4 linked regions of the Homo sapiens genome follow. The protein of the gene in region 4 purifies or fractionates together with the protein of the main gene of each other region. This does not show direct contact. Each region holds a gene or a part of one and is shown on either strand. Other genes may lie near its edges.

The links.
Region 1: the proteins of POLR2J3 (region 4) and DUSP3 purify together in Homo sapiens (affinity purification with mass spectrometry, with the first as the bait; one large-scale study listed by BioGRID). This does not show direct contact.
Region 2: the proteins of POLR2J3 (region 4) and RPAP1 purify together in Homo sapiens (affinity purification with mass spectrometry, with the first as the bait; one large-scale study listed by BioGRID). This does not show direct contact.
Region 3: the proteins of POLR2J3 (region 4) and GPN2 purify together in Homo sapiens (affinity purification with mass spectrometry, with the first as the bait; one large-scale study listed by BioGRID). This does not show direct contact.

What each region holds. Positions count from the first base shown.
Region 1 is NC_000017.11:43,765,895-43,773,969, reverse strand, and holds the end of DUSP3 (dual specificity protein phosphatase 3), read left to right. Parts: intron 1-4,155; coding exon 4,156-4,361; 3' UTR 4,362-7,845; downstream 7,846-8,075. UniProt on the Homo sapiens protein: Shows activity both for tyrosine-protein phosphate and serine-protein phosphate, but displays a strong preference toward phosphotyrosines. Specifically dephosphorylates and inactivates ERK1 and ERK2.
Region 2 is NC_000015.10:41,523,664-41,531,738, reverse strand, and holds part of RPAP1 (RNA polymerase II-associated protein 1), read left to right. Parts: intron 1-536; coding exon 537-716; intron 717-1,759; coding exon 1,760-1,875; intron 1,876-2,170; coding exon 2,171-2,269; intron 2,270-3,402; coding exon 3,403-3,504; intron 3,505-3,711; coding exon 3,712-3,879; intron 3,880-4,133; coding exon 4,134-4,316; intron 4,317-4,437; coding exon 4,438-4,572; intron 4,573-4,670; coding exon 4,671-4,841; intron 4,842-6,590; coding exon 6,591-6,748; intron 6,749-7,484; coding exon 7,485-7,643; intron 7,644-7,766; coding exon 7,767-7,968; intron 7,969-8,075. UniProt on the Homo sapiens protein: Forms an interface between the RNA polymerase II enzyme and chaperone/scaffolding protein, suggesting that it is required to connect RNA polymerase II to regulators of protein complex formation.
Region 3 is NC_000001.11:26,875,987-26,882,887, reverse strand, and holds the end of GPN2 (GPN-loop GTPase 2), read left to right. Parts: intron 1-3,138; coding exon 3,139-3,211; 3' UTR 3,212-6,756; downstream 6,757-6,901. UniProt on the Homo sapiens protein: Small GTPase required for proper localization of RNA polymerase II and III (RNAPII and RNAPIII). May act at an RNAP assembly step prior to nuclear import.
Region 4 is NC_000007.14:102,568,006-102,576,815, reverse strand, and holds the start of POLR2J3 (DNA-directed RNA polymerase II subunit RPB11-b2), read left to right. Parts: upstream 1-4,232; 5' UTR 4,233-4,294; coding exon 4,295-4,344; intron 4,345-6,891; coding exon 6,892-6,981; intron 6,982-8,631; coding exon 8,632-8,806; intron 8,807-8,810. Other genes in the region: uncharacterized protein LOC124901712, read left to right, coding at 2,892-3,009. UniProt on the Homo sapiens protein: DNA-dependent RNA polymerase catalyzes the transcription of DNA into RNA using the four ribonucleoside triphosphates as substrates. Component of RNA polymerase II which synthesizes mRNA precursors and many functional non-coding RNAs.

The sequences.
Region 1 (8,075 bases), on a different chromosome or scaffold from region 4:
GCGCCCCCACGCCTGGCTAATTTTGTATTTTTAGTAGAGATGGGGTTTCACCATGTTGGTCAGGCTGGTCTCCAACTCCTGACCTCAGGTGATCCGCCTCCCTCTGCCTCCCAAAGTGCTGGGATTACAGGCATGAGCCACCGCGCCTGGCCACTCTCTCTCTCTTTTTTAAAGAGACAGGGTCTTGCTATGTTGTCTAGACTGGTCTCCAACTCCTGGGCTCAAGCAGTCCTCTCACCTCAGCCTCCTGAGTAGCTGGGACTACAAGCACGTGCCACCATGCCCAGTCTCTCTCTTTAAGAACAAGTAAAACATTTCCCAGAAATACCCCTCACATCTCATTGGCTAGAGATTCACGTGATTGCCTGGCAAGGAGAAAAGGGGTAGCTGCGGTCAGCTTAGGTTGGCAGTCAGCAAACCACAGCCCCCCTGGCCAAATCTTCCAGCCACTTACGAAACACTTCCTGCAGCCCCCAAATATAAGATAAGACTGAAGGAGAACTACCAAGGCGCTGGCAGTCACCAAGGCATTCCAGCAAGAAACCCTAGAAGGCCACAAAGCAGACATCAGCTGAGCAGGCTGGGCCACTTGCCCTTTCTCCCTTTCTGCTTTTAGCTGTTTCTCTCAGCTCCTCCCTTTACCTCTTCGTCTCTCCCCACCCCAAACCCTCCCAGCGGAGGGGACCCCCATGAGGTGTGAACAGCCTTGGCTGTACTACACTGATGACTCTTGGGCCCAGCAGGCTCACTGTCTGAATGATTTCCAGTAAACAGAATTTTCTAGACCACTGGACAGTGAACGCTCAGGGCTCAGAGAGAAGCTTTACTGTGGAGTATCTGCAGACTTTGCTGACAGGCCCCTCATGGTCCTTCCTGGTCACTGTCACCCCCCAACCCTGCTCACCTCCTCCACTCCAGCTGTACTGAGTTCCTCACCCTGTGTAAACATAGGCTGGGCGAAGGGGAAGGATTTTGTTGTTCTCGTATAATAGCAATTGGTTATTCATTCAGGGAATTTCAAGCTCTCTGACTTTGTTTCCTCTTTCCAAACAACTAGGAACACGCCCTTTTTTTGACCTGTCTCAGTCCAGGTGTGCTGGGTCTTTAGTCTGAAAAGTTCTCTCTGCCTCTCCCTACCCCTTCCTCTGGCAAACTCCACCTTGTCCTTGGCATGGTGTCCTCTCTTCCATGAAGCCTGCCCTCAGGCTGGGTCTACTTTGTTCCTTGTCTGTCTCCTTAGCACCTGATGTAGCATCAGGCACATAGTAGGTACACTGCAAATGATGAATGAGCAAGTGATGAAGAATTCCATGGGCTCTAATGCCAAGTATAAATGCTTCTAAGAATGAGTGGCGAAGTGAGTCAACAGAAACATGCTGGCCTCCAACAGTGTGTGGGGCCCAGGGACCCATCACTGAGAGCTGGGTGGGATGGCTGAGGGTACTCAAGAGGGAGCAGTCACTTCTAGCTGGGAAAACAGCTTCATGGAGGAGGTGGCATCTGGGCTGAGCCTAGAGGAATGGGAGGTTGAACTGGCCCCTTTCCCAGTAGGCTCTGTGTGCACTGGGCATGCAGAGTATGTTCTAGATGGTAAGGTGGCTGCTCTGCAGAGGGTCTCATTCCTAGGGTGGGGCAGGGGAAGCCCCACTCTGAATATTTCGGGCATACAGGCCGGAGGGTGAATGGGCAAGAAAGTGGAGGACTCCTGCTTCCTGATTTGGAAGGCATTGGGAAAATAGAGTGGTGTTTTGGGGGTAGGGTGATAGGAGCAGAAGAGACTCTGTTGGACTCTGGGCTAGCAGATTCCTTGCCAAACAATGGCCTTATAGAGGTGTTAGTAGGTAATAATTCACTCAGCTAGTCAGCAAATATTTATTGAGCACATAGTGTATGCTAGAGATTGTAACGCATCCAAAAATCAATGCCCCACATTTCTTGCCTTTTTTTTTTTTTTTTTTTGAGACGGAGTCTCGCTCTTGTCACCCAGGCTGGAGTACAGTGGCTCAATCTCAGCTCACTGCACCCTCCACCTCCCAGGTTCAAGTGATTCTCCTGCCTCAGCTTTCTGAGTAGCTGGGATTACAGGCATGTGCCACCATGCCCAGCTAATTTTTTGTATTTTTAGTAGAAACGGGGTTTCGCCATGTTGGCCAGGATGGTCTCGAACTCCTGACTTCAGGGGATCCGCCCACCTCGACCTCCCAAAGTGTTGGGATTATAGGTGTGAGCCACCGTGTCCGGCCATTTCTTGCTCTTAAAGAATTCGTCCTCTGGGAGAGAAAAGTCAATCTGCGCATGTCTGGCAATGACACAGGACCAGGGCTGCTGTAGTTGAGGGTGTACTAGGTGCTACCAGAGGATGCCCAGTATTGGGTAACATTTATTGAGTGCACATGGATGCCAGGTGCTAACCTAGAGGATTCATGTGTCCTCTCCTTTAATCTAACCACCTTGTGCAATGGGTACTATTGGCCAGATAAGAAAACTGAGGCACCTTGAGGTTAGGTGGATCATGAGTTAATAACCAGTGTATTGGTCAGGATTCTCTAGAAAAAACAGAACCAATAGAATATACAGTCGGTCCTCCATATCCGTGGGTTCCACATCTGTGGATTCAACTAACCTCAGTCTGAAAAATATTAAAAACAACATAAAAAGATGTTATGTCTGTACTGAACATGTACAGATTTTTTTTCTTGTCATTATTCTCTAGATGATATAATCTAATAAATGTTTACATTGTCTTGGGTATCATAAGTCATCTGGAGATGATTTAAAGTATAGGGGAGGATGTGCTGTGCAGAGGTTATTTGCATATATGATGTCATTTTATAATCAGGGACTTGAGCATCTGTGGATTTGGGTATCGGCAGGAGGTCCTGGAGCCAATCTGCCCTGTGGATATTGAGAGATGGTGTCTATTTATATATATATATATACACACACATACACACACACACACACACACACACACACACATATATATACACGCACACACACACTATATTAAAATAACCCCACCTCTACTAAAAGATACAAAAAAATTAGCTGGGCATGGTGGCATGCGCCTGTAGTCCCAGCTACTCAGGAGGCTGAGGCAGGAGAATTGCTTGAACCCGGGAGGCGGAGGCTGAAGTGAGCCGAGATCGCGCCACTGCACTCCAGCCTGGGCAACAAGAAGGAAACTCCATCTCAAAAAAAAAGAAACAAAACACTACCAGCACCCTGGAAAGCACCCCCAGTCTCTATGCTCCACCACCCCCATCCCCAGCTCCCAGGGCCTCTGCCACGCGGGCTTCTTTTTTTTTTTGAGACAGAGTCTCGCTCTGTCACCCAGGCTGGAGCACAATCTCAGCACAATCTCACCTCACCGCAACCTCTGCCTCCTGGGTTCAAGCAATTCTCTGGCCTCAGCCTCCTGAGTAGCTGGGATTATAGGCTCGCGCCACCACACCCAGCTATTTTTTTGTATCTTTAGTAAAGACGGGATTTCACTATGTTGGCCAGTCTGGTCTCGAACTCCTGACCTTGTGATCCAGTTGCCTTGGCCTCCCAAAGTGCTGGGATTACAGGCGTGAGCCACTGTGCCCAGCCCCTTGCAGGCTTCTGACAGCACAGATGGTTTTGCCCGCTTTCCTACTCTGTGGGCTCATCCACCTCATATGTGTGTGCTGCCTCCGTGTTGCTTCTGCTAAGTGGCAGTCTGGTCATTCTTTGTATTTGTCCTTTCTACTGTGGATGGGCCTTTGGGGGTTTCTAACTGTGGGCCATGATGTGCAGTGTTGCCTGTGAACATTCTGGCCCATGTTCGTGAATGTGAATGCGTATCTCTATTGGACCTGGGCCTGGGAGTGGGATTGCTGGGCCAGAGGGGATGCACGTGTTCAGCTTGAGGAGATACCGCCGTGCCGCACAGCTTTCCAAAGTGGTTGTGCCAATTCACGCCTCACCTCCCCCAGCCACGCAGAAGAGTTCCAGTTGCCCCATATCTTCACCAGCACTTTGGGTTTTCCATCCTTTTCATTTTAGCCATTCTGACAGGCACACAGTGGCGTGACATTGTGCTTTTAAGTGGCACTTCACGGAAGAGTCTTGACCAACGCCATGGTGTGATGGGACGCCCCCAGCTCACCACGTCTCCCCTGTTTCTTACAGGCCGGGTGCTCGTCCACTGCCGGGAAGGTTATAGCCGCTCCCCAACGCTAGTTATCGCCTACCTCATGATGCGGCAGAAGATGGACGTCAAGTCTGCCCTGAGCATCGTGAGGCAGAACCGTGAGATCGGCCCCAACGATGGCTTCCTGGCCCAGCTCTGCCAGCTCAATGACAGACTAGCCAAGGAGGGGAAGTTGAAACCCTAGGGCACCCCCACCACCTCTGCTCGAGAGGTCCGTGGGGGAGGCCGTGGGCAAAGGTGTCCCGAGCTGCCATGTTTAGGAAACACACTGTACCCTGCTCCCAGCATCACAAGGCACTTGTCTACAAGTGTGTCCCAACACAGTCCTGGGCCACTTTCCCCACCCTGGGGAGCACATAAAGAAGCTTGCCAAGGGGGGCGTCCTTGCTCCCCAGTTGTCCTGTTTCTGTAACTTATGATGTCTTTTCCCTGAGATGGGGGCTCAGAGGGGGAAGGCCTGTGGCCTGCATGCTTCCCGATGGCCCACGGCAGGAGGTGTGTGGAAGTGTAAGGCCTAAGATGCTCACAGAGGTCCCTCATGACCTCCCTTCCCCAACTCCCGAATCCTCTCTTGAGTGTGGACCTCAACACCTTGAGCCCTAGTAAAGGAACTATGCAAATGCAGGCCACTCTCCCCACCACGTCTGTGCCCTGCACTGTCCCCACAGCCTTCCACACCCTGTGCATAGGCAGCCCTCTCACGTCTTGAGGTCCGAAGCTGGGGTGGGGGTGTCCGTCAGTTATTAGTGGATGGAGATTCCCACAGCAAGGCTGCATTTGAATGATTTCCTTAGGATGAATGGTCCCTACACAAAGAGGCCTTGTGGGCAAACCTGGAGAACCCTCCTAAATCCATAGAGTTTTCAAAATGTGAATCTTTGGAAGCCTTGAGTTCAGAATCTGCTGCTCTGGAATATTTCCCTTCGATCTTATCTCAGTCACTTCGTTTTTGAGAAGAGTGATGCCTTGGGCATGCTTTTTTTTTTTTCTTTTTTAGAAAACAGGGAGTTGAAGTCCAACCTATTTAAAAACCCCACCATTTGGAGAATTACAAGGGTTTTGTCCTGAATTGTAGTGTTGGCAAGCCCAAGCCACTCGTGCTAACTGCTTTTTGTCTCGGTTGCTATTCCAAGAACAGAAGGAGGAAGTTGGCCAATTACAGCGTGTGTGCATGGATGTGTGTGGGGGGCGTGCCTCTCAGAAACGCGGCCAGAAGACAAGCAGGGAAGTGAAAGGTCCCAGGCACACACCCTGCCCATTGCAGGTGGCTCTTACAGCTCTCTGGTGCCAGCACGGGATCCCTGAAGTGACTCAGCCAGGCAGACATGAGACATGGCGGAGTGTCCAAATGGATCCTTTATTGGTGGTAGAGCAAAAAAACCCAAACACGATAAACCTTTCAAAAGACTTTCTAAGGATGATATTGGAATGCACCAGCCCTCACATGTGTATGCACATTTGCCAGAATATAAGAGTTTTGTTTTAAATACAGTCTTGTTAGGATTTTACGTTATTGTTATTATGGAAAGTGATTGTGATGCTATTTATCTTCAGGGTCACTCTGGGCAAAGAGAAGGTCCTCAGCCATGCCCCCAGCACCTTGCACATAGGTGTCTGATAAAAGTTTAAGAAAGTAAACACTTTTTGAGCACCAAATATATATAGGGCATTGTTCTGGTGGGTGTGTCACGCTCCCAGAAGACTGAATTCATGGTAGGATCACTCGCAAGGCCTTGTGAAGGAGTCTTACCTAAAACGAAAGAAATATCAGGGACTTTTGTTGACTATTTACAACTCAGTTTTACATTTAAATTCAGGCAGTGTTAATATGCCAAGGTAGGGAATGTGCCTTTTTCAGAGTTGGCCAGGAGCTCCTGGCTGGGACACGGAGAGGCAGGTGTGGCGTAAGGCCTCACTCCCGGCTGGGAAGGTCTCTGATCACACAGAAGCAGCCCTGCCCAGCCTGGTCATTTGCTGTCCGCTTTTCTCTGTGACCACAGCAGCCCTGAACAACCAGTATGTGTCTTCTTCTCCAGATAGTGAAAAAGGTGTCCAGATAAACCCACCTAAGTGAAATGGCCATCCTCTAAACTGGGTACCTCACTGCACAGCTTCTAGGTAGCCTTCCAACTTAATCTAACTTGAGCCTCACAGTAACCCTGTAAAGTTAGTAGAGCTTGTTCTTGTATTGTGACCTTTTTTAAAAAAAAGGAACTGAGGTTCAGAATGATTAAGGGCCTGGCCCCCAGGGTTGTCCAGCTCCATAAGGTGGAGCTGGGCAAGATTTTGGGTTTGCTGCTCCCTGAAGCTGGATTCTTTCATACGATACTCTTTCTCAAGAAGGGGGCTCCCTGGGATCTCCAGGTGTACTGCACTTACCCTCAATCCAGCCCCGGAGAAGCAAGTGAAAAGGGTGGGTCCCTCATAGGCTAGAATGTGCAGCTCTTTCTCCAGGTGGGATGTAGCACCCCGAAGTAGAGCTTTCTGCTCTGCTCCTGGAAAAGGCTAGGGAGCTGGGGCTGGGGCTCCCCTCCCATGACCAGGCAGTGGTCACCCCATGGGACAGGCACAGCTACTTACGCGAACACAGCAGGTTGGTGTGGCTGGCTAACTAGGACCTCTCGAAAGTCTCTGTGGGGGCATGAGGGAGAAAAGGCCATTGGGAGAATTACTGCCTTTACTTTGGGACTACTTTTATGCTGATAACTTGGGATTTCTTGATAGTCCTTCACCCCTGAAACCCCGTATTTACTTAACAAGATTTAGCTCTTAGTTCTTCAAGTAAAATTAAAGTCTCTTGTGTAAGAGCCAACACATGCCCAGCTGCGGATGGGAGCTGTTCCTGGACAGCCTTCTACTGCCTGGGAAGTGATGGAACAGGAACTCAGGGTGCCCTTACCCCCTCCCCAGACCTGTTCCCTTTCTTTGACTGACAGAGCACCATCCAGGCAAAATTAGAGCGCCAAATGGTTTTCTTCTCAATCTTAAAGCAGTATACCTTTCCACAGGCTCGTCTGTGTCCCTGCCACTCTGAGTTATCCAGAAACCACCACCTACAAATGAGGGGACTCATCTAGAAGACCTCTAAGGTCCCCTTTTGGCTCTGAGGGGTCTCTAATAATCCCCACTTGGAATTCAGCACCGCAAGGAAATTATGGGTATGTGAGCCATAATATGATGGGCAGCAGGTGGCGCTGCCTTCCACCCATGGTGATGGATGGTTTGGAAAGGGAATGTTGGTGCCTTTTGTGCCACAAGTTAAGATGCTACTGTTTTAAAGGAAAAAAAAAAAAAAAAGTACTGATCTTCAATATGAAGACATGAGCTTTTCTCGCAGGAAATTTTCTTTTTCACAGAACTGGTGTCAGGAATCACTGAAGGGCTAACCGTGATAGTCCTTGCAAGTAAGTCAAGGTTTTATCCTGATTGGAAATAGAAGACATTTCCGGTTGAGAGAACAGATTCGTTGGAAGCTTAACTTTTGTTGCCTCTTAACGCCACCAAATTTTAGGGTAATTTGATTATGAAAGAGTGAATTTTTCTGGACAGAAAAGGGAGAGCTACCAAATTGTTTTTTTCTTTTTAAAAGGAAGTTTAATGTCCGTTGTATCACAAATCAGTGTTAAAACACCAGAACTTTAGCCAAAATAAATGTCTTACATTACAAAGGTATTGTTTTTTTGTCCTTCTTATCACAGTTGGTATTCTTTTACGTTTTTATGCTTAGCTTTTTTTGTTTGGGCTTAGCTTTTATATTTGCGATTTCTAACTTTTTAAAAATAATCATCTAAAACATAGCCGTTCTGAGCTAGTTATAGGTTCCATGATGGCACTGTTTATGCAGTAGATATTGATGAACACCTTTCCAGTACCAGAAATGTTCTGGTAGGAATATTCT
Region 2 (8,075 bases), on a different chromosome or scaffold from region 4:
AACCTGGGAGATGGAGGTTGCAGTAAGTTGAGATTGCACCACTGCACTCCAGCCCGGGCGACACAGCGAGATTCCGTCTCAAAAAAAAAAAAAAAAAAAAAAAAAAAAAAATATATATATATATATATATATATATATGTGTGTGTGCATAAATAAATTAGCTAAGAGAAGGAAATTCTTTCTGTAAATGCCTTCTTTTTGGCCCTAGTCAACATTAACTTATTCATTCTACAGCCACTTACATTGGAACTGTGACCTGAAACCAAAGGGATAGGCATAGGAACCTGGGCCAGTGGACTGTGAGGGATAGAGGGAAAGGTGGGCAGGTGGGCAGGTGGGCCTAGTGACCCCACAGGTGTGAGAAGGCTGGGTCATTGATGGGCCACAGGAGCACCCAGAAGGCTCAGGCCCAGGCTCGGAAGCAGCTTGTCCTGTCCTTGGCACCCACAGACAGGCGATATTCAGCGGGTTCCAGGTCTGTAGGAGGCCAGGGAGGATCTACCCTCACTCACTCTCCCCTCTACCTTCGCCTCTAGACCCCAGCTTGGTTGCTTTCTTGAGATCTCACAGCCACACGCAAGAGCAAACAGGAGAGACAGCCTCTGAGGAGCAGAGGCCAGGAGGACCCTCTGCTAATGTCACCAAGGAGGAACCCCTCATGTCAGCTTTTGCCAGTGAGCCCAGGAAGAGAGACAAGCTGGAGCCAGAAGCCCCAGGTTTGCAGGAGGCGGGGGTCATATTTTGGTGGATAAAAGTAGGGGAAATTGTCCCTTTTCCTAGGCCTGGCAAATGAGAGAAGAGAGAAGCTTCTGTGCTTTTGGACATCTAACATTAATCCTCATTATTGGCTTCAAGTCAGTCTTCATTGCTGATGCATGTCTTCTTCCTGCACATGCTTCCTGTTTTCTTGTCCTGTTACTGCCCCTTCTCCGCCTTCCCTTTTAAGAGGCAGCAATGCGTGATGGCTGAATCCCACTCCACCCGCTCCCGGCAGACTATCTTCCTGTCCTTGCTGTAGCTGCCCCAGCTCTGGCTCTGTCCATCCCACTGTTCTTTCTCTCTCTGCTCACAGTGCTGGGGGAAAGATGGCAGGGCCAGAGTAATAAGAGAGGCAGAATCTGACAAAGATCTTATGAACATGCCAGACCAGAAGCAGAGAGGCCAGTGGAAGCACTCATTTCCCAGAAACTAGATTATTTCATTAGTGATTAACAAAATAAGAAATTGAATTATGAGAGCCAGGAACCTCATGCCCCCGGAGGAGCTCCAGGCCAGCTGAGCAGGTTGGGTGGGGGTAGGCGTGAAGGAGGAAAATGCTGTGGGATTTGTTTCTGTATCCTGCCCCCCAGGAGCAGTATAGTTGCCTCCTCCTCATTGTCCCCACTCTCCTACTCCTTTAAGGGCTGGTACTGGAAAGTGGAGATGGTGCCTTCCTGACATATGTGGTCCTCCTTCTTCATCTTTTTCTCCTTTCTTTCTCTTTCTTCCTTCTCCTTCTCCTCCTCTCTCCCCTCCCAACAAATCCTTGGGGTCAGCAAGGGGCTGGAGCCCAGGATGGAGTGTGTCTGTCATATTTGAGACTTTCACCCCAGCCCCAGGAGTTCCAGTCCCTGGGCCATGCCATTTAGCCATAACCGAGGGTAGAAGCTGGCAGATCCTGGAACAGAAGTGGATGTGGCAGCTGCTGGGTGATGGTGGGGACCCCTGTGGATAGTGAGCTGAGCCGTTTGGGTAATACTATCATGCTTTGTCTCCCCAGCTCTGGCATTGCCCGTGACCCCTCAGAAAGAATGGCTGCACATGGACACTGTCGAGCTGGAGAAGCTCCACTGGACCCAGGACTTGCCCCCTGTCCGGCGGCAGCAGACACAGGAGGTGAGGAGGGCCACCTGGCCTACAAGGGGTGGGTGAGATAGGGCAGGAGAGGAGCTGCTGCTCTTGCCCTCAGAACTCAGGCCTTTCTATTGCCCAGAGCCTGAGAAGCATCTCTCCTTTGCTCTCACCCACCTTTACCATCACTCTGCCTGGCCCCCAAGGCCAGATAAGCCCCATTTCTGGTAGAAGTAGAGTCAGTACCTAAGTCCTGAAAGGCCTGGGATTAAAGGTGGGGAGTGGGTGTGGGAAGGTTGCTGGAGCCCCCAGACCACAGTCCTCTTTCTCTTCCCATTAGAGGATGCAGGCTCGATTCAGTCTTCAGGGAGAACTACTGGCCCCTGACGTGGACCTGCCCACCCACCTGGGTCTGCACCACCATGGAGAGGAGGCAGAGGTGAGGCATGGGACTGGAGAGGATGGGGCAGCTCTTTTAACAACCCCATGGAAAAGGATCTCTGGTCAACTGCCTTTGACCTTCTGTGTGCCCTGTTCTAGTTCATGCCTTTGCTGTGCATTCAGTTTCTTTTTTTGGAGACAGAATCTCGCTCTGGCCCAGGCTGGAGTGCAGTGGTATGATCTTGGCTCACTGCAGCCTCCACCTCCTGGGTTCAAGCCATTCTCCTGCCTCAGCCTCCTGACTAGCTGGGATTACAGGCGCATGCCACCACGTCCAGCTAATTTTTGTATTTTTAGTAGAGACGGGGTTTCACCATGTTAGCCAGGATGGTCTTGATCTCCTGAGCTTGTGATCCGCCTGCCTCGGCCTCCCAAAGTGCTGGGATTACAGGCGTGGCATTCAGTTTCTTAGGCTCAAAATCTTGATCCTCTCTCCGTATTCTGGTCAGTTGCTAGAATTTGCCGATCTTCTGTCACCTCCTCATGATGCCTCCTGCACTGTGGCCTTGCTTCCTTGGTCTGCTCACTCTCCATGCCCTCCATTCTCCGCCCCCCTGCCATTCCATGTCTCTCGGGGCTGCTGTGCTGATTTCTTCTGGCCCAGCTCAGGCCATGCCTTGCCTCCAGAAGTTTCCCAGCTTCCCTCTGCTCACAAAATAAGGTTCTGGTCTCAGCTGGGCAAGATATTCCTTCTACCTTTTGTCCCTGCTGACCCTGCTGCTCTGCCTCCTTCACTTCCTGCTACACCACTCTGCTGGCTTCTCCCCACATACCTCCTGTGCTCAGGGCCCTCCAGGACTCCACTCGCTCCAGGAAATGCCTTTGCCTTTTGCTCCATGTCAGGCCATCAAAGCTCTACCCATCCACTGAGACCAATTTAATTTTCCAGGTTCCCTTCTCTCTCTCTCCTGTCCGCCGGTCGCAAATTAAACATCAGTTATCACGTTCCTCTGCATCTGCCTCATGGCATGGTTACTTGTATGCAAGTCTTATCTTTACCGGCTTGAGGCTCCATGGAAAGCAGGGCAGATTTCACTTATTTATCTTTGTCTTTCCTGTGATACCTTGCTTGGTGTTTTGGGGGCACTGTGCTGTATCCTGGCTGCTTCTGACTTCTTGTCCCTGCCCCAGAGAGCGGGGTATTCCCTACAGGAGCTGTTCCACCTGACCCGCAGCCAGGTTTCCCAGCAGAGAGCACTGGCACTGCATGTGTTAGCCCAGGTCATCAGCAGGGTGAGTGGATTGCCAGCCTGGTCCTGCCCACCCTTCCCTTCACCCCACAGCCTCAGACTTCCCCATCTCCTGCCCTTTTCACTCTGGCTCACTAGCCAGCTATGTGCTTTTAACAACCTAGGATCATAGGGGGGCAAACGAAGGATTAGGGCAAAGCCTCTAGATAACTTCAGCATCTTCAGCAAGGTTTTACCCTCCTGCCCTCAGGCCCAGGCTGGTGAGTTTGGGGACCGGCTAGCAGGCAGTGTCTTAAGCCTCCTTTTGGATGCTGGTTTCCTCTTCCTACTGCGCTTCTCCTTGGATGACAGAGTGGATGGGGTCATTGCAACCGCCATCCGTGCTCTTCGGGCTCTGCTGGTGGCTCCTGGAGATGAGGTACCACAGGGATAGGAATGGGGCTTGGGCTGGGAGGTGCCAGGGTCCATATTCCTGTTCCTGGGCATGGCCCCATTGCTAAGGCTTTGCGGGCAAGATGTAGAATGGGATGGCAGGCGTCTCCCTCATCTCCTAAAGTCCCTAAAGCCCAGGAGGCTTGCCTTTATGGTTTTTATTGGGGAGCATCCTCTCTACTCCTGGATCCATTTCCTGGCCCCTTCAGCATTGCCCCCCAACTCCCGTTCCTCTGGCAGGAGCTCCTCGACAGCACCTTCTCTTGGTACCATGGAGCTTTGACGTTCCCTCTGATGCCCAGCCAGGAGGACAAGGAGGATGAGGACGAGGATGAAGAATGCCCAGCAGGAAAAGCAAAAAGGAAAAGCCCTGAAGAAGAAAGCCGGCCTCCACCTGACCTGGCCCGACATGATGTCATCAAGGTAAAGGGACAGCTTCTTTCCCATCCCATGGCCCAGGGGACAAGCACATGCTGGAAAGAGGGGCCATCAATGCCCAGGGTCCAGCTGCATTTGTCAGTGGGTTTCTCTCTCCAACTCCCAGGGGCTCCTGGCTACCAGCCTGCTGCCTCGGCTGCGCTACGTGCTGGAGGTGACATACCCAGGACCTGCGGTGGTCCTTGACATCCTGGCTGTGCTCATCCGCCTGGCCCGGCATTCCCTGGAATCAGCCACAAGGGTGAGAAAAAAGGGAGCAGGGAATGGGCAAAAAGCCTAGCTGGGCCTTGTCTTGACCCACAGCCTCCCTTCCTCCCTTTTACCTCCTGTCTCCCATAGGTCCTGGAGTGCCCTCGGCTGATAGAGACTATAGTTCGAGAGTTCTTGCCCACCAGTTGGTCTCCTGTGGGGGCAGGGCCTACCCCTAGTCTATACAAAGTACCCTGTGCTACTGCCATGAAACTACTTCGTGTCCTGGCCTCAGCTGGGAGGAATATTGCTGCCCGGCTGGTGAGCAGGACACAGGGCAAGGGATGGGGGAATGCATGGGACAGGGTTGGGTTGGGAGCTAAACATGGCTCCTGAACTCTGGGTGGCCAGCTCTTGCCATCTTCTTCCTCTCTGATCCAGTTGCTTAGAAATGCAACAGAAATCACCAGGCATGAACCTGTTTACTGGAGCCTGTTTACTGGAGCCTGGTGCATCATATAGGTATACTGTGGTCTCATGATGTAATAGGAGGTCTCCCTGTTCCCTAGACCCAGATCAGAAGGGCTTCATGCACATAGGCATTCATCATCTATAGCCAAGTAGCCCTAGAGAAGGTGCCCAGCAAGCCTTGCTATAAAGAGGGAGGGCTGGGTGTAGTGGCTCAGGCCTGTAATCCCAGCACTTTGGGAGGCCAAGGCAGGAGGATCACTTGGGGCCAAGAGTTCAGGGGCCAGCCTGGACAACATAGCAAGACTCTGTCTCTACAAAAAACAAAAACAAAAAATTAGCTAGATGTGGTAGCACATGACTGTAGTCTCAGCTACTCGGTAGGCTGAGGTAGAAGGATCACTTGAGCTGGGAGGTGGAGGCTGCAGTGGGCTGGTTGCACCAATCACTGCACTACAGCCTAGGCAACAGGGCGAGACCCCGTCTCAAAAATACTACTACTGGCCAGGTGCAGTGGCTCACGCCTGTAATCACAACACTTTGGGAGACCGAGGTGGTGGATCACTTGAGGTCAGGAGTTCGAGACCAGCCTGGCCAATATGGCAAAACCCCACCTCTACTAAAACTACAAAAATTAGCCAGGTATAATAGTGTGCGCCTGTAGTCCCAGCTACTTGGGAGGCTGAGGCAGGAGAATTGCTTGAACCCGGGAGATGGAGGGTGGAGTGAGCCAAGATCACACCACTGCATTCCAGCCTGGGTGGCAGAGCAAGATTCCATCTAAAAACAAATAATAGGGCCGGGCGCGGTGGCTCACACCTGTAATCCCAGCACTTTGGGAGGCCAAGGCAGGTGGATCATGAGGTCAGGAGTTCAAGACCAGCCTGACCAAGATGGTGAAACCCTGTCTCTACTAAAAATACAAAAAATTAGCCAGGCGTGGTGGCATGCGCCTGTAATCCCGGCTACTCCAGAGGCTGAGGCAGAGAATTGCTTAAACCTGGAGGGGCAGAGATTGCAGTGAGCCGAGATTGCGCCACTGCACTCCAGCCTGGGCGACAGAGCGAGACTCCATCTAAAAAAATAATAATAATAAAAATAAAAAAATAATAGGGGCTGGGTGCGGTGGCTCACACCTGTAATCCCAACGTTTTGGAAGGCCGAGGTGGGTGAATCACGAGGTCAGCAGTTCGACACCAGCCTGGCCAACATAATGAAACCCCGTCTCTACTAAAAATACAAAAATTAGTCGGGCATGGTGGCGCATGCCTGTAGTCCCAGCTACTTGGGAGGCTGAGGCAGGAGAGTCTCTTGAACCTGGGAGACAGAAGTTGTGGTGAGCCAAGATCACTCCACTGCACTCCAGCCAGGGCAACAGAGCAAGACTCCATCTCAAAATAATAATAAATAATAAAAAGTAAAATAATAAAATTGAAATTTTAAATAAATAATAAGAAGGAAGGGCAGGGTGGATGAGGTATGACTTTGTGGCACCAGAGGGGCCTGGGTCAGGGTTGAGTTAAGCCACTCTCTGTCCAGCTGAGAGTAGCTGGACTTGAGACTCACAGCTGACCCTGATCCTCAGACTGTGCCCATTTCCAGTTGAGCAGCTTTGATCTCCGGAGCCGCCTGTGCCGCATCATAGCTGAGGCTCCCCAAGAACTGGCCTTGCCCCCAGAGGAAGCTGAGATGCTGAGCACCGAGGCCCTCCGTCTGTGGGCTGTGGCTGCCTCCTATGGCCAGGGCGGTTACCTTTACAGGTGAGGAGAGGCAGGGGGTAGGCTCCCCCTAGACACCTTCAGTTCTGCTCTTCTGGCCAAATCAAACACCTCAGCCTTGCTCAAGGTCCCAAGCTTGGAGGAAGGATAAGAATGAGTGGGAGGGCTTCTGCCAGATGTGAAAAGGCTTAGGAGTCAGGCCCAGCCAGGGAAGAGGGGGATAAACCTGGCTTAACCGTATTCTATGCTCAAAATCATTAGCCGGGCACTGTGGCTCATGCCTGTAATCCCAGCACTTTGGGATGCCAAGGTAGGCGTATCACGAAGTCAGGAGTTCGAGACCATCCTGGCCAATATGGTGAAACCCCGTCTCTATTAAAAATACAAAAATTAGCCAGGCGTGGTGGCACACACCTGTAATCCCAACTACTCGGCAGGCTGAGGCAGGAGAACCGGTTTAACCTGGGAGGCAGAGGTTGCAGTGAGCCGAGATCACTCCATCACTCCACTGCACTCCAGCCTGGGCAACAGAGAATGTCTCAAAAAAAAAAAAAAAAAAGCATTGGTATCTGTGAAATCACATTTAAATTCCCTGTTGGGGGCAGCCTTGAAGGACAACATCCTTTCCATTCTTTAGGGCTGAGCCTTCCAAGAGTGCCCCACTCTTCCTCCTCATCCTCCTTTATCAAACTGCAGATCCCTGGGTCAGGGCCATGACCTGTGTCTCATGTCTCCACTTGCTTTCATACAGTGAAAATCAGTCCCTGTTCTTCCCTAGGGAGCTCTACCCAGTGCTGATGCGGGCCTTGCAGGTGGTGCCGCGGGAGCTCAGCACCCACCCACCTCAACCCCTGTCCATGCAGCGGATAGCCTCACTGCTCACTCTCCTCACCCAGCTAACCCTGGCAGCCGGCAGTACCCCTGCTGAAACCATCAGGTAGTTTATAGCCAGGACCCACAGGACAGGTGGAGGGCTCCTCCACAGGGCTGGGGTGGCTGGAGTGTAAAGGGGCGTGAGGCAGCCAGATCCTCACTGTGGCACCCTTTGGCACTTTTGTAGTGATTCTGCTGAGGCCAGCCTCTCGGCCACCCCTTCCTTAGTCACTTGGACACAGGTGTCTGGGCTCCAGCCTCTTGTTGAGCCGTGTCTAAGGCAGACCTTGAAGTTGCTGTCCAGACCTGAGATGTGGAGAGCCGTGGGCCCAGTGCCCGTTGCCTGCCTGTTGTTCCTGGGAGCCTACTACCAGGCCTGGAGCCAGCAAGTGAGTGCCTCCTGCCGGCTGTCCACCAGGCCCCCGCACCCTGCCTTCAGCTACATTCCACCCGTTGCTCCCTCTCTGTGTCCATCTCTCCACTCCTACTTCCCCAT
Region 3 (6,901 bases), on a different chromosome or scaffold from region 4:
AGGAAAAGGAGGAGGGAGCAGGTTTGTCACATGGATGAAAGGGACAAGAGCTGGCAGATGTGCTGTGTTCAGGGGTCCATGGGACATCCAGAGCTGTCCAAGAGGCAGCCAGACTTTTGGAGCTTGGTTAGTGACTAATGAGGCTGGAGCCAAGGTCATGGGTAGGTGTCCATCAGGTCACAGAGGCCATGCGTGAAGCAGGACAGAAAAGTCCAGGCCCTCTAGGCTGATGCTCTCACAGATTCAGCATCTATGCAGCATGCTGGAGACAAGGGGGACTCAGGAGTCTTAGGGTATAGAGGAAAATAATTCCAGCCAACACTTACTGATGTTTCTCGAGCCATATGTGGGAAACAAAGCTCATGGGGTCGGGGTTGGAGGAATGACTTATAAATGATGGCAGTAGAGTGTGCAGTCCCTGATGAAGGTACTAAGGAGCTGCGTCACACCTGCAGTTAATGTAGGCCAATTGGACTGCATGTGCTCAGCAAAAGAGGGGAGGAGCAATTTTTTTTTTAAATTTAAGATGGACTTTCTTTTGCTGTTGTTGCCCAGGCTGGAATGCAATCTCCAACTCCAGGGTTCAAGTGATTCTCCTCCCTCAGCCTCCTAAGTAGCTGGGATTACAGGCATGCTCCACCACACCTGGCCCTTTTTTTTTTTTTTTTTTGAGACGGACCGTCAATCTTGTTGCCCCAGTTGGAGTGCAATGGTGCAATCTCAGCTCACTGCAACCTCCATCTCCCACGTTCAAGCAATTCTCCTGCCTCAGCCTCCCGAGTAAGTGGGATAATAGGCGCCCGCCACCACGCTCAGCTAATTTTTTGTATTTTTAGTAGAGACAGCGTTTTACCATGTTGGCCAGGCTGGTTTCGAACTCCTGAACTCAGGTGATCCACCTGCCTTGGCCTCCCAAAGTGCTGGGATTATAGGCGTGAGCCACCATGCCCGGCCTGCAACTTTTATATTTATTTCTTAGAGGCAGGGTCTTGCTCCTTTGCCCAGGCTGGAGTGCAGTGATGCAATCATAGCTCACTGCGACCTTGAACTCCTGGGCTCGTTACCCTCCCACCTCAGCCTCCCAAAGTGCTGGGATCACAGGCATGAGCCATCGTCCCCAGCTGGGAAGGGCAGTTTATGTTTGTTTATTTTGTGAGGCAGAGTCTCACTCTGTTGCCCAGGCTGGAGTGCAGTGGCGTGATCTCAGCTCACTGCAGCCTTGACCTCCCTGGGCTCAAGTGATCCTCCCACTTCAGCCTCCTGAATAGCTAGGACTATGGGCGTGTGCCACTGTGGCCAGCTAATTTTTGTAGAGATGGGGTTTCACCATACAGCCTAGGCTGGGAGAAGCAATTTAAATAATGTAGTATTTTGTACACCGTACAGATGGTTCCCAACTTATGATGGCTCAACTTTATGATGGTGTGAAAGCTATATGCATTCAGTAGAAATCATACTTTGGGTACCTATCAATCATTCTTTCACTTTCAGTACAGTATTCAATAAATTACATGAGATATTCAATACTTTATTGTAAAATAGGCTTTGTGTTAGATAATTTTGCCCAAATGCAGCTAACGTAAGTGTTCTAAGAATATTTAAGGTAGGCGAAACTAAGCTATGATGTGTGGTAGGTTATGTGTATTAAATGCATTTTCGACTTAAGATATTTTTGATTTAGGATGGGTTTATCAGGATGTAACCCCATCATAAGTCAAGGAGCATCTGTACGTTACTTTATGTATTCGTATATATAAAGGATTCTATTCACAAAACCATGTATGCTGCATTTAACAAATAATTTGAGGAATTTTAAAGAGTATTTTTAACCATATACATTTGTGCTGATTTTAGATTCTGCCCTGACCCTAACCCCCTTAAGATTCAGCAGCTCTCTGTAAGAGAGTAGGGACTGATACAAATAAGGGAGTGGTCAGCTTTGCTGAAGGGTAGGTGGGTAAGGAAAGCTTTATGGAGGCATGACACGTGAGTTGTGTCATTTCAAGGTGAGGGTTAGCCAGTCTAATGAAGAAGAAAAGGGAATTCAAGTTAAGAGAACATGCAAAGGCATAGGGGTTCAAAGTTGAGACAGGTTTCAAGGGTTGCAAATAAGATGGCATGGGCCAAGTGTAATGGCTTCATGCCTGTAATTCCAACACTTTGGGAGTTAAAGGTGGGAGGATTGCTCAAGGCCAGGAGTTTGAGACCAGACTGGGTAACATAGTGAGACCCCATCTCTCTCTCTTTTTTTTTTTTAAAGTATAAAAATTTATTTTTGGCCAGGCGTGGTGGCTTACGCCTGTAATCCCAGCACTTTGGGAGGCCAAGGCGGGCGGATCACGAGGTCAGGAGATCGAGACCATTTCTGTCAACATGGTGAAACCCTGTCTCTACTAAAAATAGAAAAATTAGCTGGGTGTGCTGGCATGTACCTGTAGTCCCAGCTACTCTGGAGGCTGAGGCAGGAGAATTGCTTGAACCAGGGAGTTGGAGGTTGCGGTGAGCCGAGATCGCGCCACTGCACTCCAGCTTGGTGACAGAGTGAGACTCTGTCTCAAAAAAAAGAAAAAGAAAGGTCTGTAACTCGAACATCATTTGGTGGGCTAAGTGCTTTACTTGCAGGGTCATTTAATCCTCATTTCAACCCCTTTTATAATTGAGGCGACAGGCCCAAGGTCCCTCTCCCGGGATGTTTTGGAAGAACAGTTCAAACCTTGGTTTTGGTGGGTGTAGAATCTGTTTCTTACTTTGGAGCCATCTGGTAGTACAACAGCCATGGTGTCCTAACATAGCCAACCTAGCCATGGCTAACCTCCATGTCCTCGTCAGACCCCAGACCCAGACATCATCAGGTTTTGAACTCCCTTAGTCTGGCTCCAGAGCATGTGCCATAACGCAAAATTGCAAGGTTAGTACTGTCCAGTCCTTTGATCCGCAGCAGTGTGTGGAAGAGGCAGATAGAGGAGCATTTGAGTCTGGGTGTTTTTGGAGGCTTCTCATACCTGATTGGTCCCTATAATTATGAGGAAGAGAGGGATGGACATGGTTGGAGTGTAGGCATCAGCGGAAGTCAGATCCTGCCCAGACCAGCTCCCCATCCTCTGCCTATGCTATCAGCCTTGACGCACCCTTCCTCAGCACACTGGGCATCCAGGAGAAGTACCTGGCACCCTCGAACCAGTCAGTGGAGCAGGAAGCCATGCAGCTGTAGCAACAAGGTGGACCCTGGAGAGCAGGATGCATAATCCAGCACTGGGGAAAGTGGAGGCTCCTGATGCAGGCTGCAGACCCAAGAGCAAGTCCTCCCAGCCAGAGCTGGCGGGCTGGCAAGGGGATATTCAGCTCTGCAAAGGACTTCTGGCCAAAAAGCCAGACATGGTGCCAAGCAGAACACCCCCCATACTGTCAGTGGTGTCCGTGAGCTCTGGGCCCTGCCACCAGAAAGTCGAGCACTGGTCCTAGTCAGGCTGTGATGAAATGTGCTACAATACAAGAGTTTATTTTCTACTTTTTGTGACTTCCAAACTTTTCTTCAGTCTTCCGGGCCCAGGGGTTTGGGGAAGAATGAGGGAGTGTCACCTAGCCTTGGAATAATCAGTATTTCCCCAAAGCATATAATTCACATTCAGTCACATAGGATTTACATTCAGTCTCCAGTCATGTGTTTTTATTAATCTTCAGTTTTTGGTTCTGAGGTTTGTTTTTTAAAAGATGGGGTCTTGCTATATGGCCCAGGCTGGACTCAAACTCCTGGGCTCATGTGATCTTCCCGCCTCAGACGCCTGAGTAACTGGGACTACAGGTGTGAGCCACCATGTCCCACAATTTTCAGTTTTAACAGAGCCTCAAGCTTCAGCTTTCACAGGCAACACTTCCTAACTAGAACTTTGTTAATGTTTTATATTCACTGTATTTGTTTTATGGTTTTATTCTATTGTTGACAAGTGTTAACTAGTTTTCCATTTACAGTAGTGGTTAAAAGTTTACTTCAAGGCTGGGTGCGGTGGCTCACGCCTGTAATCCCAGCACTTTGGGAGGCCGAGGCAGGCGGATCCCAAGGTCAAGAGATCGAGACCATCCTGGCCAACATGGTGAAACCCCATCTCTACCAAAAAATTTTTTTAATTAGCTGGGCATAGGTGGCGCGTACCTGTAGTTCCAGCTACTTGGGAGGCTGAGGCAGGAGAATCATTTGAACCCAGGAGTCAGAGGTTACAGTGAGCTGAGATTGCACCACTGCACTCCAGCCTGGTGACAGAGCGAGACTTTGTCTCAAAAAAAAGGTGTACTTCAAAAATGAAATACAAGGCTGGGCGTGTTCACTCATGCCTGTAAGCCCAGCACTTTGGGAGGCTGAGGCGGGCGGATCACCTGAGGTCAGGAGTTCGAGACCAGCCTGGCCAACATGGTGAAACCCCTCTCTACTAAAAACATAAAAATTAGCTGGGCATGGTGTTGCACGCCTATAATCCCAGCTATTGGGGAGGCTGAGGCAGAAGAATTGCTTGAACCCAGGAGGCGGAGGTTGCAGTGAGCCAAGATTGTGCCTACATTCCAACCTGGGCGACAGAGCAAGACTCTGTCTCAAAAAAAAATAGTAAGTTGTGTAAAGAAAAATATTAATTATATAATATGGCAGTTCCTATGAGAGTGTGGCAAAAATCAAGAGGGCTTGGAAGTTTTTTCTTTGCTCTTGCAACTGGCTGGATGCAGTTCATATATTTTTCAACCAGTAGGTGGCACCCCAACCTAATTTTTTGCAGTTGTAACCTGGTGGCAGAAGGGGCAGGACTGATGGCTTGGGCAAGACTGTTATGCCAAGTTTTATTTGCATGTATTTGGACTTTCTTTTTTTGGAGACAAAGTCTCTCTCTGTCGCCCAGGCTGGAGTCCAGTGGCACAATCTCGGCTCACTGCAACCTCCGCCTCCCAGGTTCAAGCAATTCTCTGCCTCAGCCTCCCGAGTAGCTGGGATTACAGGCGCCTACCACATGCCCGGCTAATTTTTGTATTTTTAGTAAAGACGGGGTTTCACCATGTTGTTCAGGCTGGTCTTGAACTACTGACCTCATGATTTACCCGCCTTGGCCTCCCAAAGTGCTGGGATTACAGGCGTGAGCCACTGCACCCGGCCACATTTGGACTTATTAACACATATGAAGTGCTTGGTATTTTAGAGTGCTTCCACACACACAATCCTCATTAGAGATAGACAGGATGGGGAGAATTAATAAGCCATTGCCCGTGTTACAGTGAGGAAGCAGAAAGATGAGAAGTTTGAACTTTGGTCAGCCTGGCTTTCTCATAACCCATTTTGCTGACTAAATTGCGAGTATCCCTCCTTTGGTATATTTATTGGTGAGAAGTCACAGCCCTTGTCCCACAGGTTTTGCAGCCAATCAGGAGAAAGAAATTAGGCACCTGTAAAGTATTACTGAATCATAGATAGTTCACCAGTGGTTTGGGCAGTTGGCAAATTAATTTAGGGACATCTGTTCTGAAACAGCATTGAAATAGGACTGACTGCTTTGCTTTCTGGTTGTGGCAGCCAGAGCCAAAGGCAGATGAATGAGGGGCTATGAGGAGGCTACTGTGGCTGGAACAGTATGAAAGCAACCTCAGCTCCCACGCCTGGCTGTAAAGGGGATAATAACTGGGTGCTGCTTCCCAGCCTCTTTCATCTGAGAAGTTCAAAGCACCTCACCCCTATTAACACCCCACAGAGTAGGTAGGAAGTACCAATAGAGCAAGCCAGGAAAACTGAGGCCAGGAGGCACAGCCTGGGGCTAGCTGTGAATCACCTGTGGGGCCTAGAGCCCAGGAATCCTGACGCCCAGGCTACTGGACAAATCCTTTATCAGGGCATTAGGGTGGGTGCTATGCTTTTGAAAGCAGTACCAACGGCTGTGGTCGTGGGTTTTGATGCTTGCCACTCACAGAGGCCCCAGCTCTCACCATAACAAACCAAATGGGGGCTGGAAGGCATCCTTTACAACTTTATGGTCTCGTATGCAAGCACCCTCAGCATTCTCTGCACCCATGGAGTGGAGATGGGTGGGAGTAATCCAAGGCCTTTATTTTCAGGCCATGGTTTGACAGCAAGGGTATTTTCTTCCCCAATAAACGTAGCTTCTGTCTACCTTCCACTGGCAGCAAAATGATTTTCTGTTCTCTGCATATACTGAGGGGATCTGCACAGTGCAGAAAGGAAGATGTCCGAGATCCAAGTGAGGCCTGTTCAGTGTGAAATGTCTAGGGTAGAAGAAAGACCATCCTCCATTATGGCTGGCATGTGGCAGTCATCCTTAAGATTATTTTTAAATTTCCTAATAAATATAGGAAAGTAAAAAACTTAGAAAATGAAAGAGAAGGCCGAGCACGGTGGCTCACGCCTGTAATCCCAGCACTTTGGGAGGCCAAGGCGGGCTGATCACCTGAGGTCAGGAGTGTAAGACAAGCCTGACCAACATGGTGAAAACCTGTCTCTGCTAAAAATACAAAAAAATGAGCAGGGCATGGTGGCATGCGCCTGTAATTCCAGCTACTTAGGAGACTGAGGCAGGAGAATCGCTTGAACCTGGGAGGCGGAAGTTTCAGTGAGCGGAGATCGCGCCATTGCACTCCAGCCTGGGTAACAAGATGGAAAGTACATCTCAAAAAAAAAAAAAACGAAAATGAGTCACCCAGAATCCCATAACGGAAACTTTCTATGGGGTCATCTGTTTAAGAGAAAAATAAATTCTATATTCAAATGTATATTTTGTGTATTCTCTTTTTTTCTCATCTCTGTAAATACCTGGAGATATTTTATGTATTCTTTCAGCCTTATTTTTATACCTGGGGTGGATATTGCATTTATATAAGTGGGATATTTTATAATTGTGTTGTATCCTGCCTTTTT
Region 4 (8,810 bases):
TTGGACCCCCAGGCAGATATCTGCAGCCCAGGGGGCTGGTGTTCACCACAGGGCAGGGCAGGCACCCTGGGAAGGCTTGACTGGACCTAGCTCACCCAGTACCTGTTTCTCTCAACCTCTTAGGAAATCTGAACAGGTATGCAGCAACCACCTCCGGACAAGGCCTTTTCAAAGTATAATTTTCAAACATGTAAAAAAGATGACTCATATATATCATGAACACATATCAAAGATCTACTACGCATCAATTCAGAAAAAGAGTGGGAACTCTGATTCATGGATCATTCTGAGAAGCTGGGTACATGTATTTCATGTATTTGTAAGCATTCTTTTGTTTTGTTTTGTTTTTGAGACAGGGTCTCGCTCTGCCACCCAGGCTGGAATGCAGTGGTGCAGTCATAGCTCATTGTAGCCTGTTCCTCCTGGGCTCAAGCAATCCTATTGCTTCAGCCTCCCAAGTAAATGCAACTACAGGCACACACTACTATGCCCTGCTGATTTTTTAAATTTTTAGTAGAGACAAGATCTTGCTATATTGCCCAGGCTAGTTTCAAACTCCTGGGCTCAGGCAATCCTCCCTCAGCCTCCCTAAGTGCTGGGACTACAGATGTGAGCCACTGTGCCTGGCCCGTAAACACTTTAAGAGAAGAATGCTAGAATAAGATTGTGATATTACATACGAAAGTGGTTAATTAATGAAGTTTTCTTTTCTTTTTTTTTTTTTTTGTTTTTTGTTTTTTTTGAGACGGAGGCTCATTCTGTCGTCCAGGCTGGAGTACAGTGGTGCGATCTTGGCTCACTGCAACTTCTGCCTCCCGGGTTCAAGCAATTCTCCTGCCTCAGCCTCCCGAGTAGCTGGGATTACAGGTGCTCACCGCCACACCCAGCTAATTTTTGTATTTTTAGTAGAGATGGGGTTTCACCATGTTGGCCAGGATCGTCTCCATCTCCTGACCTCGTGATCTGCCCACCTCGGCCTCCCAAAGTGCTGGGATTACAGGTGTGAGCCACTGCGCCCGGCCATGAAGTTTTCTTTTCTACGGGATAGACACCCACAAGCTAATAAGTAACTTCAGTGTCTGGGCTGTAACCAAACAATAAATAGCAAAGTCAACACAGGCACAATCCCCAAGATTAGGATCAGCAAACGTTTTCTGTAAAGGACCAGACATGCAGCTCTCAGTCACAACCACCATGCCATGTAGCATGAAAGCAACCACAGCCAATGTGTAACAAATTAGCATGGTATGTGTGGCCAGGGGCAGGGCTCATGCCTATAATCCCAGCACTTTGAGAGGCCAAGGCGAGAAGATTGCTTGAGGTCAGGAGTTCGAGACCAGCCTAGGCAATAAAGTTGGACCCCATCGCTACAAAAAGTAAAAAGAAAAAAACTAGCAGGGCGCCGTGGTGCCTGCCTGTGGTCCCAGGTACTGGGGAGGCTGAGGCAGGAGGACTGCTTGAGCCCAGGAGCTTGAAGCTGCAGTGAGCTATGATCTCACCACTGCACTCCAGCCTAGACAACAGAGCCGAGATCATGCCACTGCACTCCAGCCTGGGCGACAGAGCGAGATGCTATCTCAAAAAAAAAAAGAAAAAAAGAGAAAAAAAGAAAAAAAGTGATAAGGGTAATAATTCCCTGAGGATATAACCTCCACACTTCTGGGTCACCCTGGAAAAGCTTGGGTCAAGGATGCTACCCTTGGCTAGGAACAGTGGCTCACGCCTGTAATCCCAGTACTTTGGGAGGCTGAGTGCAGTGGCGCAATCTCGGCTCACTGCAACCTCCGCCTCCCGGGTTCAAGCGATTCTCCTGCCTCTGCCTCCCAAGTAGCTGGGATTACAGGTGCCCACCACCACGCCCGACTAATTTTTTGTATTTTTAGTAGAGATGAGGTTTCACCATGTTGGCCAGGCTGGTCTCTAACTCCTGACCTCAAGTGATCCGCCTGCCTCAGCCTCTCAAAGTGCCAAAGTGCTAGGATTACAGGCGTGAGTCACCGCACCCAGCCTACCCATATCACTTTCTGTTCCTCAGCAGTTAAAGAGGTGCCCACCCACTTCGCCTGGAAAGTCAGATTCTGTGTGGGGCTGTTGCAGAATGAGATTTCCTCCTGCCAGGGTGCAAGAACTCAAGTAGGAAATGGGCCTTCCCAGAAGGGGTAGATGCTCCAGATTTCCTCAGCACTGTAGCTGCTGCCCAGCCTTGGAGAAACAGCTGCCAAACTGTTAGGGCCCTGGTAGCTCCTCTGAGACCCCAGTCCCTGTTGCTTCAAACAGCTTAAGGAGGGCCTTTATGCTAAACTGTAGTCTGCAAAGCAACCAAACCAAAAAGGGTAAGATACACTTATCCACCTGTAGGGTCCAGCCCCACAGGGTCGGTGGGTTTCTCTCCATGTGCAGAGACGAGAGAGCGCAGAAATAAAGACACAAGACAAAGAGATAAAAGACAGCTGGGCTGGGGGGACCACTACCACCAAGACGCAGAGACCAGTAGTGGCCCTGAATGCCAGGCTGCGCTGATATTTATTGGATACAAGACAAAGGGGCAGGATAAGGAGAGTGAGCCATCTCCAATGATAGGTAAGGCCACATGGGTCACGTGTCCACTGGACAGGGGCCCTTCCCTGCCTGGCAGCCGAGGCAGAGAGAGAGAGGAGAAAGAGAGAGAGACAGCTTACACCATTATTTCTGCTTATCAGAGACTTTTAGTACTTTCACTAATTTGCTACTGCTATCTAGAAGGCAGAGCCAGGTGTACAGGATGGAACATGAAGGTGGACTAGGAGCGTGACCACTGAAGCACAGCATCACAGGGAGACGGTTATGCCTCCGGGTAACTGTGGGCGGGCCTGTGGAGGAGTAGAGTCTTCTCTAAACTCCCCCGGGGAAAGGGAGACTCCCTTTCCCGGTCTGCTAAGTAGCGGGTGTTTTTCCTTGACACTAACGCTACAGCTAGACCACGGTGGGCTTGGCAACAGGTGTCTTCCCAGATGCTGGCGTTACCGCTAGACCAAGGAGCCCTCTGGTGGCCCTGTCCGGGCATAACAGAAAGCTTGCACTCTTGTCTTCTGGTCACTCCTCACTGTCCCCTCAGCTCCCATCTCTGTATGGCCTGGTTTTTCCTAGGTTATGATTGTAGAGCGAGGATTATTATAATATTGGAATAAAGAATAATTACTACAAACTAATGATTAATGATTCATATATAATCATATCTCAGATCTATATCTAGTATAACTATTCTTATTTTATATATTTTATTATACTGGAACAGCTCGTGCCCTCGGTCTCTTGCCTCGGCACCTGGGTGGCTTGCTGCCCACATCCACCAAGTGCACTTTGGGAGGCTGAGGCTGGAGGACTGCTGGAGGCCAGGAGTTCAATACCAGCCTGGGCAACATAGGGAGACCCCCCCCCCCACCATCTCCAAAAATAAAAAAAAAAATAGCTAAGTGTGATGGCACATGCCTGCAGTCCTAACTATCGGGAGGCTGAGGCAGGAGGATCTCTGGAGCCCAGGAGTTGGAGGCTGCATGATGGCGCCACTGTACTTCAGCCTGGGCGACAGAGGGAGACGCTGTCTCTAAATAATAATAATAATATATAAAAAGATATACGTAACCCTACGGGCTCCCCTCTCACTGCTGTATACACCTGCCTCCTTCTGCATCCCTCACCCAATTGTCCCTCCCGGCTAACAAGCCAGCTGCACCCCCCAGGCAGAGGTCCTGCAGCAGTCGGTATAGGCAGCCTGGGCAGGGGGCTTGTCATAGATCTGCCTCTGGCCACGAGATCTTCTGCTCCCCCTACGGCTGCTAGCCGCAGCTGTCCACTACCCCTTAGCTTTATTCTCTCTATTCAGGGGCCTCCTGCTGCGCACTCCAAGGGGGTGCACGTTTCCAAAGAGAGATCAAGGGACATGGGGAAAGGAGAAAGGTACAGCTTGAGGTTCCCGCTCAGCCAGGACTAGGAGGCCTCTGTAGGGGCAGAACAGCCCTGCCGGCGCTCTGAGCATGCGCCGAAAAGCGCCCACGGGGAAAGCCATGCCGGGGTGCGGGGTGGGGGGGTGGGGGGGGGGGGGGGCGGTGCGCTCGCCACTGACGCATGCGCAGAGACACTGGTCTCGCTCGGGGTTTTCTCGCGCCTGCGCAAGATCCTCCAGCCCAACAGGGGGCGATGAGCCGATCCTTGCGCGGGTTTGCCCCGCCGGAGTAATCCGGAAGAGGCCTCTTATTAGGGCTCTGGTGGCGGCGGTGGCGGACACTTGGGGTCTGGACGCAACGGCGGCGGGAGCATGAACGCCCCTCCAGCCTTCGAGTCGTTCTTGCTCTTCGAGGGCGAGAAGTAAGTGACGCCGGCTGCGGAGGGCCGAGGTGCGCGGGCCTGCGGCTGTCGCATTCTGGGGTGTCTCCTGCCCATCTCTTGCCCCGGGAGGGAAACAGCTTTTGCTTGATCGTCTGCTCGGCCTGTGTCAGCCAAATTTAAGGCCGTTCCGCGAGGCAGTCGCGAGTGTGTTCATTTTGCAGATGAGGACACTGAGGCTTGGAGGCGAGCAAGTTGCCCCGGACACAGGAAGTGGCGGCGCTTGTATTCGAACCCAGAGTGTCTGGTTCTCCATAGCCCTTTTCCTCTGGGATCTGGCAGCTTCCTCTTTTTGTCTCTCGCCCGCCACCTCCATCCTTCATCCCCTCCGATCTGTCAGCGGCCTGCGTAAAAGCCGCAGTGGCTCCTCGCTGCCTGCGGGTTGAAGGAGTCCAGGGGAGAGAGCTTGGGCTCACTCTGTATCTGTGGGCGAGTGGCTTGATCTGTCGGAGGCCCTGTTTCCTCATCTGGAAAATGAGTTTATTACTGTACTTAAACGTGGGATTCAGGCCGGGTGCGGTGGCTGACACCTGTAATCCCAGCACTTTGGGAGCCCGAGGCGGGCGGATCACCTGAGGTCGGGAGTTCAAGACCAGCCTGACCAACATGGAGAAACCCTGTCTCTACTAAAAATACAAAATTAGCCGGGCGTGGTGGCAGATGCCTGTAATCCCAGCTACTCAGAAGGCTGAGGCAGGAGAATCACTTGAACCTGGGAAGTGGAGGTTGAGGTGAGCGGAGATCACGCCATTGCACTCCAGCCTGAGCAACAAGAGCGAAACTCCGTTTCAAAAAACAAAAAAAGGGATCTGGCCAGGTGCGCTGGTTCACGCTTTTAATCCCGGCACTTTGGGAGGCTCAGGTGGGAGGATTGCTTGAGCTGAGCACAGGAGTTCCAGGCTGCAGTGAGCTTTGATCGCATCACTGCACTCCAGCCTGGGCGACTGAGCGCAATCCTGTCTCAAAATAAAAAGAATTGGATGAGGTAATTTGTGTAAAACTCTTGGTCCAAAGCTCAGCCCCTGGAAAACCTCATAACCATTGGCTCTTATTGTTCCCAGGTTGGCGTGCAGAGGTCTTGGTCTGGCCCTTGCCAGCCACTTCGGCCTCCTTTAGAGCAGACTCTCAACTGGGGACCATTTGGCCCCACAAGGGACATGTGGCAATAACTGAGAACATTATTGGTTGTCAAAGGGGGTTATGACTGGAATCTACTGGGTAGAGGTCAGGGATGCTGCTGATGTCCTACAATGTCCACAAGACAGCACCCCACAGGAAAGAATGATGCACCCTAAAATGTGTGTGGTGTCAGCCTGGAGAAACCACCTTAGAAAAAAGGATATTCAACTTGATACCTCTCACCTGTGTGAGATTTTACTGTCAGCATAGTTGCCCTCAAATTGAGTGTGCATTAGAATCACCTGAAGGGCTTCTTAAACCATAGATCCCTGCGCCCCACCTCCAGAGTTCTGGGTCCAGTAAGTGGGAGGTGGGAGACTCTTAACAAGTTCCCAGGGGATTCTGATGCTGCTTATCTGGGAACTGCACTCTGAAAACCCCTTGTCTTGGAAAATCCAATGGAAGTTTCCTGTCTTTGTCCATCTAAGCGTTCACTAAAATCATAGTAAATGCCAGAGCATGACTTGTTTTGGGGAATGGATGGAAGGACTGCACACTCCAGCCAGGGGGATGGTTGCTTTCGGAACTCACAGGGTCAGGACCAGCCTCACCGTGTAACTTCAGGGCCTCTCTTCTTCACCTTTTGGTTGCTTCATTATGTTGGCGTAAGAAAAAAGGAACAGGCCAGGCATGATGACGTGCGCCTGTGGTCCCAGCTACTCAGGAGGCTAAGGCGGGAGGATCACTTTAGCCGAGGAGTTGGAGGCTGCAGTGAGCTATGATCACACCACTGCACTCCAGCCTGGGCAGCAGGAGAGATCATTTGAGGCGAGGAGTTCAAGACCAGCGAGGACAACAAGGCAAAACCCCATCTCTACCGGAAAAAAAAAAGGAGGAATTCAGAAAAGGCCAAGGTTCCATAGACCTGGGGTAGCAGGAAGTAGGGGACCGGGTTGGCGAGGCCTTTATGGGATGAAGAGATTGAGAAAGGCCTTCAGGAAGAGGCAGAGCTTATTTTTCCTTTTTATTTTTATATTTTTGATACAGAGTTCCACTCTGTTGCCCAGGCTGGAGTGCAGTGGCATGATCTCGGCTCACTGCAACTCCACCTCCCAGGTTCAGGTGATTCTCCTGCCTCAGTCTCCCAAGTAGCTAGGACTACAGGCATGGATCACCACACTCAGCTAATTTTTTTTTTTTCTTTGTATTTTTAGTACAGACAGGGTTTTGCCATGTTGGGCAGGCTGGTCTTGAACTTCTGACCTCAGGTCATCCATCCACCTCAGCCTCCCAAAGTGTTGGGATTACAGACACGAGCCACCACACCTGGCCGGGAGGAGACAGGGTTTAGACTCAGGGTGGGAGGAGGGGAGCCCCTGCTCCTCATCTGTGGCCTCTGTGTCTTCCTAGGATCACCATTAACAAGGACACCAAGGTACCCAATGCCTGTTTATTCACCATCAACAAAGAAGACCACACACTGGGAAACATCATTAAATCGTAAGTTTCCCGTCACAGGCTCTCAGGGGCTATGTTTAATGGGCCCCTCTGGGCAAAGCACAAGTTCCAAGTCTTCCTCAGTCTCTCTGAGCTACAGGAAGTCCTTCTGGGGGCTTGCTCTGGGCATTTTATAATCTTGGTACCTTTTTATCAAAATGACACCGACCTCCATGTCTTCACATAAGCCACACTTCTGTAGTGGCTTATTCTGTAGATGAACACGTGCATTTACATTCACTGTTTGTTTGTTTGTTTGTTTTTGAGATGGAATTTTCTCTCTTTGTTGCCCAGGCTGGAGTGCAATGGCACGATCTTGCTCACTGCAACCTCCGCCTCCCGGGTTCAAGTGATTCTCCTGCTTCAGCCTTCCTAGTAGCTGGGACTACAGGCCCACGCCACGATGCCCGGCTAATTTTTGTGTTTTTAGTAGAGACGGGGATTCACTGTGTTGGCCAGGCTGGTCTCGAACTCCTGACCTCAGGTGATCCACCTGCTGGCTTCCCAAAGTGCTGGGATTAGAGACGTGAGCTACTGCGCCCGGCCTTACATTCACCATTAAGTGCACATTCTGTAAATGAACGAGCAGCAGATTCCAGCACAGTAGGCCTGTTTGTTATTCATGCTGAGGGACATTGAAAAGCAGTCAAGATTAGCTCCCCTCATGCCACCCGTTTGTGACCTCAGTGCCACCTGGGCCTCTAAGATGTATGTGGCAGAGACTAGAACTTCTATTTAACAAGAGAAAGAAGTAGGAGTTCTGTGGCTATCCAGTGCCCCTAATGGGCACCCTGCATTGGTTGGTGGGTGTTTGTTTATACCAGTGAGGTCCTAGCCAGGTGGTTGGTCAGGGATGTGTCTGCCATTCTGGCCCAGGGACTTGCCATTTTACTGTAGACTTGGCTCTTCCCTCTGGTGCCACCAGCGAAGCCAGGCTTTTCCCCGTCTGTGAGTGGGGTCTGCCCAGTCTCCTGGTGTGGTCAGGCACGGGGATGGAGGAATCCTGCCCGGAGCCCAGCCAGTGGGGCACCCAAGCTCTCCTGGGGCCCTGCTGCTCCCCTGCTCTTGAGCTCAGTGTTGCCACCTATGCACGGGTCCCCCTTGTGGTGCTCACGCCACTCTGAGCCACTCTAGAGGAGACCCCTGCATGCCCAGGGCACAGTACGCGATGCAGCCCCATGGCACAAGGCCCAGTGTGCGTGGCCAGCCGCTGGCGGCTGTGCTGCTCGGAGGGCAGAGTTCCATTTGCATTCCACTCACTGCCGGGAGCTGGCCCTCCTCTCCTGCTGCCTTTATTTGCTGCGTGGAGGCTCTTTGTGGGCTTTTTGGGTCTGAGTCACTGAACACTGGCTGGACATTCACTGCCTGGGAGATCTCTTTGCCAGCACTGCGGTGCCCGGTGGGAAGAGGTTGCTGGAATCTCTTTCCAGCTCGGGTCCTTCAACCTCATGGATGCAGAGTGTGTGTGTGTGGCGGGGATAGGGTGTCCCCACATGAGGTATCTTCCTAAAAGTGTTACTTTCCTTGAAGACTTTTTGGGAAAAAAGTTGGGGGGGATTTTTGGCTAGAAAGTCTGTTCTTCTGCTCTGAGCTGGCTGCTACCCAGCTTGGGCATGAGGCTAGACCCTCACACTGTCTGTCCCTGGACCTCAGACAACTCCTAAAAGACCCGCAAGTGCTATTTGCTGGCTACAAAGTCCCCCACCCCTTGGAGCACAAGATCATCATCCGAGTGCAGACCACGCCGGACTACAGCCCCCAGGAAGCCTTTACCAACGCCATCACCGACCTCATCAGTGAGCTGTCCCTGCTGGAGGAGCGCTTCCGGGTGA